Regions from separate parts of the Homo sapiens genome. Here regions 2 and 3 are each linked to region 1. The links come from fine-mapping of genetic effects on gene expression. A gene starts in region 1. Each other region holds a variant in brackets. All regions are shown on one strand. Distances are between the middles of the regions.

What was found. PIP is the estimated chance that this variant, and not a neighbour inherited with it, causes the effect.
Region 2: its variant is the best candidate, but not a certain one, in a credible set for the expression of TRIM37 in lymphoblastoid cells (GEUVADIS, PIP 0.59).
Region 3: its variant is the best candidate, but not a certain one, in a credible set for the expression of TRIM37 in Th17 cells (Schmiedel 2018, PIP 0.51).

The regions. Positions count from the first base shown.
Region 1 is chr17:59,105,650-59,108,408 of GRCh38, forward strand. TRIM37 (tripartite motif containing 37) reads right to left here and starts at 1,231. Exons shown (of 24, transcript NM_015294.6): 1 at 792-1,231. The coding sequence starts at 812. It overlaps LOC124904039 (a long non-coding RNA gene), which reads left to right and starts at 1,447. Exons shown (of 2, transcript XR_007065864.1): 1 at 1,447-1,942. RefSeq lists enhancers at 319-978, 635-684, 895-1,024, 979-1,638, 1,115-1,214 and 2 more and a silencer at 1,345-1,454.
Region 2 is chr17:58,653,845-58,656,603 of GRCh38, forward strand. All of the region lies in intron 1 of TEX14 (testis expressed 14, intercellular bridge forming factor), which reads right to left. Among named protein-coding and RNA genes, the nearest start is that of IGBP1C, 37 kb to the right of the region's middle. The variant A/C (reference allele first, on the strand shown) is at 1,565.
Region 3 is chr17:59,070,247-59,073,005 of GRCh38, forward strand. It overlaps TRIM37 (tripartite motif containing 37), which reads right to left. Exons shown (of 24, transcript NM_015294.6): 9 at 577-701. Among named protein-coding and RNA genes, the nearest start is that of TRIM37, 35 kb to the right of the region's middle. The variant G/A (reference allele first, on the strand shown) is at 1,384.

The sequences.
Region 1 (2,759 bases):
ATTAATCTCATCATGACTCTGTAGGGCCAGAAAGAACCTGGGAGATGCAGATTCTGTAACCTGCAACGGGGTGGACAATAAGACTACTGAATGACTAGTTTCAAGTGGAATATCCATAACATAGTTACCCCTTACTAAAAAGCAAGGATTTCCTATTTCAGTATCTGAAAGGTTCAAAATTTGATAATGATTACACAATTATGTTCAATAAACAATCTTTTAAAATATATTCCTAGCCTTTACTTACATATCCTACATATCCCAACTATTTTAACTCACAGCTTACAAGAATCAGTTATAAAAAGAAGAGTTTGTTCTGGAAACTACACATGAGATAATATATGCTGATTCAATCTAGGAAGGAAGGGCAGAAGCCTGCAAAATGTGCCACTGAGAGGGAAAGATGACTATCCATTTGGAAGGAGATTTAGATCAGCTCAAGAACTCGCAAGGACTGGTGGCGAGTGGCAGGGTACATCCATCTGATGAATCTGCAGTTTTGGTCGGAAAAGGATGCTGTTTGCAAACACCCGGTGGGGATGAGTACCTGTGCCAAGACATCCTTGAAAACTCCAGGATACGCACCACCTGACTGCGGAACAGTGAGCACAAGACACCCGGAGCGCTGCAGAATGGGCACGGCATCCTTGGTACCGGGCCAGCCCTCTCCACAGCGGCAGGGGCGGGGTAGGGGTGCCCTACTGGAGGGAGGACATGGGCACGACTCCCCGAATAAAAACCGCTCATCGGGTGGGGGCGGGGACTAACCACCACCCTCACAACCCCCTCACCTCCACGCTCTGTTCATCCATTGCCTCCGGCTCTCGGCGGGGCCGCTGGCGACCCGCAGGCTCCGCAGTCTGACCTCTTAGGCGCCGGCCCGAGGTCGCCAGATCAAATCGCCGATAAAAGCCCGGCGCCCACGTCAGGGGGCTCTGACAACCGCCCCACCTGCGCGCCCCATCTCTTCAGGTCCAGCGCCGCCTACCCCCATTTCGCCATTTTTACCGGCGCGCCCGCCCCGAGGCGCAGAAGTAGGGCGAACGGTGGCCGCAGCTCCTTTCTCCCGGCTCAGCCGCCGGCCAGCAGCCGCGCCGGAACCTCGGCCCACGTGACGCGGGCGCGCGCCTATGGAACTGACGGTGGAGTTCAGCGAAGAAGGTGCCGCAGAGAATTCGCAAACACCAACCGTAACCAGAGCAGCTGGGGGCGCGGCGGCGAGAGAAGCTGCGAAGCGCATGCGCGCAGGACGCTGTGGGAGGGGAAAGGAGGGGAGGAGCGTGGAGCGATCGCCTAGTTCCCGCGTTGCGGGGCGCATACGAGACTTGGCGACTCGCTGCCTCAGGGTTGCGTGCCTCCGGCCCTAGCCTGCGCAGGCGGCCTGAGCTTGGGGCTCTGCTACGCCACCCACGCCCACCTTGGCGGAGGGCGGGGCCCCACGGCTCTCAAACTTGCGCGCCAAAGACGGAGCCACCTGGCGTACTGGTGGAAAGCGCAGACTTCAGAGCCACACCCGTAGTTAAGTATTCGGACTCTGAGATTCCAGGGTGGGGCCCAGGCCATCCGCGTTTTCACCCAGCATCGTGTGATTCGGCAGCAGGTGGTCTGTGGCCCGCACTTTGAGAAACCCTGGTGCAGAAGGTTCATGGTTAGTGGTTCTCTCTGGAAGGAACAGTCTAAGGTTTGTAGGACTTGCGTTCCACCTACCAAAGCTAATCGAGTTAGAAGGCTCCAAACTGAGGTGTCATTTCTCATTACGGTGGTGAGAGGACGGGACCACACACTGTGAAGTCTTCGTTCCCACATCCCACACTTCATTCTTGCCGCCTAAGTTGTCGCCGTGGGACTATTGAAAGGGTATCAGCGATATTCATCTTTCCTATAAATGGGATCTGCTTTCTACAGTTTCCTGCCAGATGTGTAAAGATTGCAAGAATTGAAGGTTTGTGAGACAAAGAGGGCATATCAAATTCGTAATTTGAATTTAATTTTTCCTGTATTTATTGCAAACAACTAATTATACTTAACCGACCTAGAGTGCACATGTAGAGAATCACTAATAATCTAGAAATAAGTTCTTGAATATCAGGCATTTAGGCTTATAGGTGGTGGGTAGCAACAATTTTTTTTAACTACTTGGGTCATGAACAAGATATAATTTAGAAAGATTAATCTGAGACTGAAAAATTCTTTCAGTAAGAATTATTTGTGGTCTTTGACCTACATGGAGCTATTTTTACGAAAATGGCCTCAGTTGTACATTTTTAAATGGTTGATGGTTAATATTATGAGAATTTTACTTAAAAGAATTATTTATAGAATGCAGTGCTAGGCCTGGCGTGGTGGCTCACACCTGTAATCCCAGCACTTTGGGAGGCCGAGGCTGGCGAATCACCTGAGGTCGGGAGTTCGAGACCAGCCTGACCAACATGGAGAAACCCCGTCTCTACTAAAAATACAAAATTAGCCGGGCGTGGTGGCGCATGCCTGTAATCCCAGCTACTGGGGAGGCTGAGGCAGAAGAATCGCTCGAACCCAGGAGGCGGAGGTTGCGGTGAGCCGAGATCGCGCCATTGCACTCCAACCTGGGCAACAAGAGTGAAACTCCGTCTCAAAAAAAAAAAAAAAAAAAATGCAATGCTGTACTTGGGATTCAGAGTAATGAGAAGTGGCCCTTGCTCTCAAGGAGCAGTACAGAAGACAAATAAGACAAATTGCAATACTTACATGATAAATAGTTAAGATTCTTGTATGTTTGC
Region 2 (2,759 bases), 450 kb before region 1:
TTTACTATAATTTTGATGAATGCATATGTTAAACATTAAAGAATTGGAGAAACTGGGCCGGGCATGGTGGCTCATGCCTGTAATCCCAGCACTTTGGGAGGCCGAGGCGGGCGGATCACAAGGTCAGGAGATTGAGACCATCCTGTGAATAGTGAAACCCCATCTTTACTAAAAATACAAAAAATTAGCCGGGCATGGTGGCGGGCGCCTGTAGTCCCAGCTACTCGGGAGACTGAGGCGGGAGAATGGCGTGAACCCGGGAGGTGGAGCTTGCAGTGAGCTGAGATTGCACCACTGCACTCCAGCCTGGGCGACAGAGCAAGACTCCATCTCAAAAATAAAAAATAAAAAGAATTGGAGAAACTGGTGCCTGAGTACTACAAGGGCTGGAATGCAAAAACAAACCCATTAAGACACCACCTGGCCTTTCTCAGGCCCTAAAGTCTGATCAAATAATAATAGCATTTTTACACATACACCTTGTACCAAGGACCACTTAAGAAACTTTCCAAGACTCTAGAGAAAGCTTTCCAGACCCTAGATCCTAGTTAAAGATTAGATATAGATTGAATGAAACACTCCACCTTGTAGGTGCACTCCCGCTTATAGGCATGGACCTTGAATGTATAGAAGCTTTGGAAAAAAAAAAACAACTTGTAACTTTTTTTTTTTTTTTTTTGGAGACAGAGTCTTGCTTTGTTGCCCAGGCTGCAGTGTAGTGGCACGATCTCAGCTCACTGCAATCTCCACCTCCTGGGTTCAAACGATTCTCAGACCTCAGGCTCCCAAGTAGTTGGGATTACAGGTGCCCACCATCATTACCAGCTAATTTTTGTATTTTTAATAGAGTTGGAGTTTCACCATGTTGGCCAGGGTGGTCTCAAACTTCTGACCTCAGGTGATCTGCCCACCTTGGCCTCCCAAAGTGCTGGGATTACAGAAGTGAGCCACCGCACCTGGCCAATAAACTCCCTTCTTTCCCAGTCTGGATCTCATTATTGGACTGTGAGAACAAGAAGCTGGACCTCATTCTGTCCTAGAACACCCTGACATTTCGGCACCCCAAAATGTGCTGGGATTATAGGCGTGAGTCACCGCGCCTGGCCAAAACTTTTAACTTTTTTAGTTGGTCTGCTGAGTTACTCCAACCTTCTCCCTGTAACCAGTTGCAGAAATAAACTCCCTTCTTTTTTTTTTTTTTTTTTCCTGAGACAGAGTCTTGCTCTGTTGCCCAGGCTGAAGTGCAGTGGTGAGAATGGCTGAAGTGCAGCCATTCTCCTGCCTCCGCTTCCTGGGTAGCTGGGATTACAGGCGCCTGCCACCACATCCAGCTAATTTTTTCTTTTTTTTCTTTTTGAGGAATCTCACTCTGTCACCAGGCTGGGCTGGAGTGCAGGGGCGCAATCTCAGCTCACCACAACCTCCGCCTCCCGGGTTCAAGCGATTCTCCTGCCTCAGCCTCCCGAGTAGCTAGGCCTACAGGCACGCACCACAATGCCCAGCTAATTTTTGCATTTTTAGTAAAGATGGGTTCTCACCATGTTGGCCAGGATGGTCTCGATCT[A/C]TTGACCTCATGATGCACCCGCCTCTGCCTCCCAAAGTGCTGGGATTACAGGCAGAAGCCACCGCACCCGGCGACTAATGTTTGTATTTTTAGTAGAGATGGGGTTTCATAATGTTGGCCAAGCTGGTCTCAAACTCCTGACCTCAGGTGATCCGCCTGCCTTGGCCTCCCAAAGTGCTGGGATTACAGAAGTGAGCCACCGCACCTGGCCAATAAACTCCCTTCTTTCCCAGTCTGGATCTCATTATTGGACTGTGAGAACAAAAAGCTGGACCTCATTCTGTCCTGGAACAGAATGTCAGAACCCTGACATTTCGGCACCCCGAGACGAGCCCTCCTTTAAGCCAGGGGCCATGTCTGGCACCTCCCTTGTAGGCAGGGGCATTGCCAACCTTAGGCGCATAAGCTGGCTTGCAGCAGAGAAATGGTTTCTGATTCCGGAAGATGTCTCTGATGATTATTCCCAAGCATAATCCATATTCCCTTTCCCTTCTCCTGATCTGTTGGCCTCCTCAGAGGCCCTGTAAACTCTTTGAGGGTCCTGTTAAAGGGCACTGTTTTGGGGAAGTACTCCTGGGCCCTTTGGGTCTCAGTTCAGAAACCTGGTTTTGGTTGGGCGCGATGGCTCACACCTGTAATCCTAGCACTTTGAGAGGCCGAAGTGGGTGGATCATCTGAGGTCACGAGTTTGAGACCAGCCTGGGCAACACGGCGAAATGCTGTCTCTACAAAAAGTACGAAAATTAGCTGGGCAGCCGGGCACAGTGGCTTACGCCTGTAATCCCAACGCTTTGGGAGGCCAAGGCGGGTGGATCACATGAGGTCAGGAGTTCAAGACCAGCTTGACTGATACGGTGAAACCCCCATCTGTACTAAAAATACAAAAATTAGCCGGATGTGGTGGCGGGCGCCTGTAGTCCCAGCTACTCAGGAGGCTGAGACAGGACAACTGCTTGAACCTGGGAGGTGGAGGTTGCAGTGAGCCGAGATCATGCCACTGCACTCCAGCCTGGGCAACAGAGCAAGACTCTGTCTCAAAAAAACAAAACAAAACAAAAACCAAAAGGCTGGGCACAGTGGCTCATGCCTGTAATCCCAACAATTTGGGAGGGTGAGGCAGGTGGATCATGAGGTCGGGAGTTCGAGACCAGCCTGACCAACATGGTGAAACCCCATCTCTACTAAAACTACAAAA
Region 3 (2,759 bases), 35 kb before region 1:
ATACTTTTTGCCATAATTATTTCCTCTCTCTATCTTTTAGTATCCGGAGATAACATGGCGTCACCTTCAAATTCTTTTGGCATTTCATCAGTTTCTGAGTTTTGTGTTAGGAGATATAGTTCAATTCAAAAGGTACACTGATGAAGCTAATGTAATCAATTATTTTTTTCTATACTACGGAAGATGGAGCTCTTGGAAAAAAAAATGATTTCTAGTTCATTGTCATTTTCTCTTAAGAGTCAAAAGTATCAGTCTGTGAGACTTTTCAGGAGAACTAGATTTGTATGTATACAACAGAGCTTGCCAGACCACTCCATTATAAACAAGACCTTAAAAAGCTATGGAGTGGCCAAGTGTGGTGGCTCATGTCTATGATCCCTAGTAATTTGGGGGGTCAAGGTGGGAAAATCACTTGAGTCCAGGAGTTTGAGACCAGCCTGGGCAACAAGTGAGACCCTATCTATAAAAGAAAAGAGAGAGAGAGATGGCATTAAAAAAAAAAACATTCTTTTGAAACAAGTATATGCATTTCCACATAAATTTCAAATGAAAATGAAATTAAAAACTGTGTCATACCTGGTAAAGTCTGGTGGAACAGGAGTGGTAACAAAAGATGCCATGGGCTTCCGATGAACTTGCTGAAACATCATAAGGATCTCTGAGCTCTTAGATATCAACTCACTCTTACTACAAGACCGCAACTGTGTGAGGAAAAAAATTATCTGAACAAACAAAATTACTATTCACTGCCACCTCAAAATTCTTAAGAAATTACAAATTATTCTGATTATAAACTGAAAAAAATGATAAAAATAACTCAAAGTGAGCTTGAGAATTAAGAATGTACAAAGAATCTAGGTTTATTTCTATAATATTCTAACAGTAAAGTCAATGAATAAGTATACTTAATACTAATGCATTTTTCTCTCCTTACATTTTAGGATAAATGAGGTTTTAAGCAAGTACAAATATACTTTCAGGCTGGTACAGTGAAGTTCTTATGAATGTATTAATGAACAAACCGGTAAGTTGAAAGCTTTTTTTTTTTTTTTTTTTTGAGACAGAGTCTTGCTCTGTTGCCCAGGCTGGAGTGCAATGGCGCGATCTCGGCTCACTGCAACCTCCGCCTCCTGGGTTCAAGCGATTCTCCTGCCTCAGCCTCCTGAATAGCTGGGATTACAGGTGGGTGCCACCATACCCAGGTAATTTTTGTATTTTTTAGTAGAGACAGGGTTTCTCCATGTTGGTCACACTGGTCTTGAACTCCTGACCTCATGATCCACCTGCCTCGGCCTCCCCAAGTGCTGGGATTACATGCGTGAGCCACCGTGCCCGACCAAGGTGAAAGCTTTTAAAAGCAATTTCTCAGATTGTATTCTAGGT[G/A]ACAGAATACAAAACGTACACACATACACCCGTGTGTACACACACACACACGCACTATCTGATACTAATTTGGGAAACACTATTTTGGGAAAAAGTAACAAATCTAACTTCAGTAACATAACCATGGTAGATAAAAGATAAGACTACTAATTTTTTCTTCAAAAAAACCAGTTTGAAGTAACTCCCAATTCTGCCACTGACTAATTACATAACTCTGAGTCTGTTTACATACAAAACTAAAATAGTAATATCCACCACTGCTTACTTCGTGAAGTTTGTTATAAGGATTATGAAGCTATAGTGAAAAAGCTTTGTAAACTATCTGTTATGTGCTGAATTTTGTGCCCCTTTCCTCCATAATTTATATACTGCAGGCTCAACCTCCAGTACCTCAGTCTATCTGGAGATAATCTTTAAAGAGGTGATTATGTTAAAATGAGGCCACTGGGGTAGGGCCTTAATCTAACATGACTGGTGTCCTTATTAAGAGGAAGAGACTCTAGGGCTGCACAACCACACAGAAAAGTCCATGTGAGGACACAGTAAGAAGGCAGTCATCTACAGGCCAAGGAGAGAGACCTCAGAAGAAACGAAACCTGCCAACACCTGAATCTTAGACTTCCAGCCCCTAGAATACTGAGAAAACAAATTTCTATTGTTTAAGTCTCACAGTCATTGGTATTTTGTTATGACAGGCCTAGCAAGCTAATATACTATCAAATGCCATATGAATGATATTCATAAACCCACCTACAGGTGAGTTTATATCTTTTAAATAACAGTTGCTTAAGGCTCACCAAAAATAACATATCATATGGCTGGGCACAATAGCTCACACCTGTAATCCCAGGACTTTGGGAGGCTGAGGCGGGTGGATCACTTAGGGTGAGGAGTTCAAGACCTCATGACCTGGCTAGTTCAAGGCCTGGCCAACATGGTGAAACCCCATCTCTACTAAAAATATAACAATTAGCTGGGCGTGGTGGCACGTGCCTGTAGTCCCAGCTACTCAGGAGGCTGAGGCACAAGAATTGCTTGAACCCAGGAGGCGGAGGTTACAGTGAGCCAAGATCACGCCACTGCACTCCAGCGTGGGCGACAAGGCAAGACTCTGTCTCAAAAAAAAAAAAAAGTATCATATATCATATGATATATATCAAAGTTTATAGTCTTGGGTTACCAAGAATAATGATATCATGTTTGAGCTACTGCATCAACCAATGACATAATGGTAAGTGGTAACAGCAGAAAACAACAAACAGCTGCATATTTTGTCATTCATATTATTATGTGTCAGGCATTGCCCAAGGCATTACGGTTTTTTGAACAATTTATATAAAATGATCTAAAGTTATTTGAACTGTTTGCTTAAGATT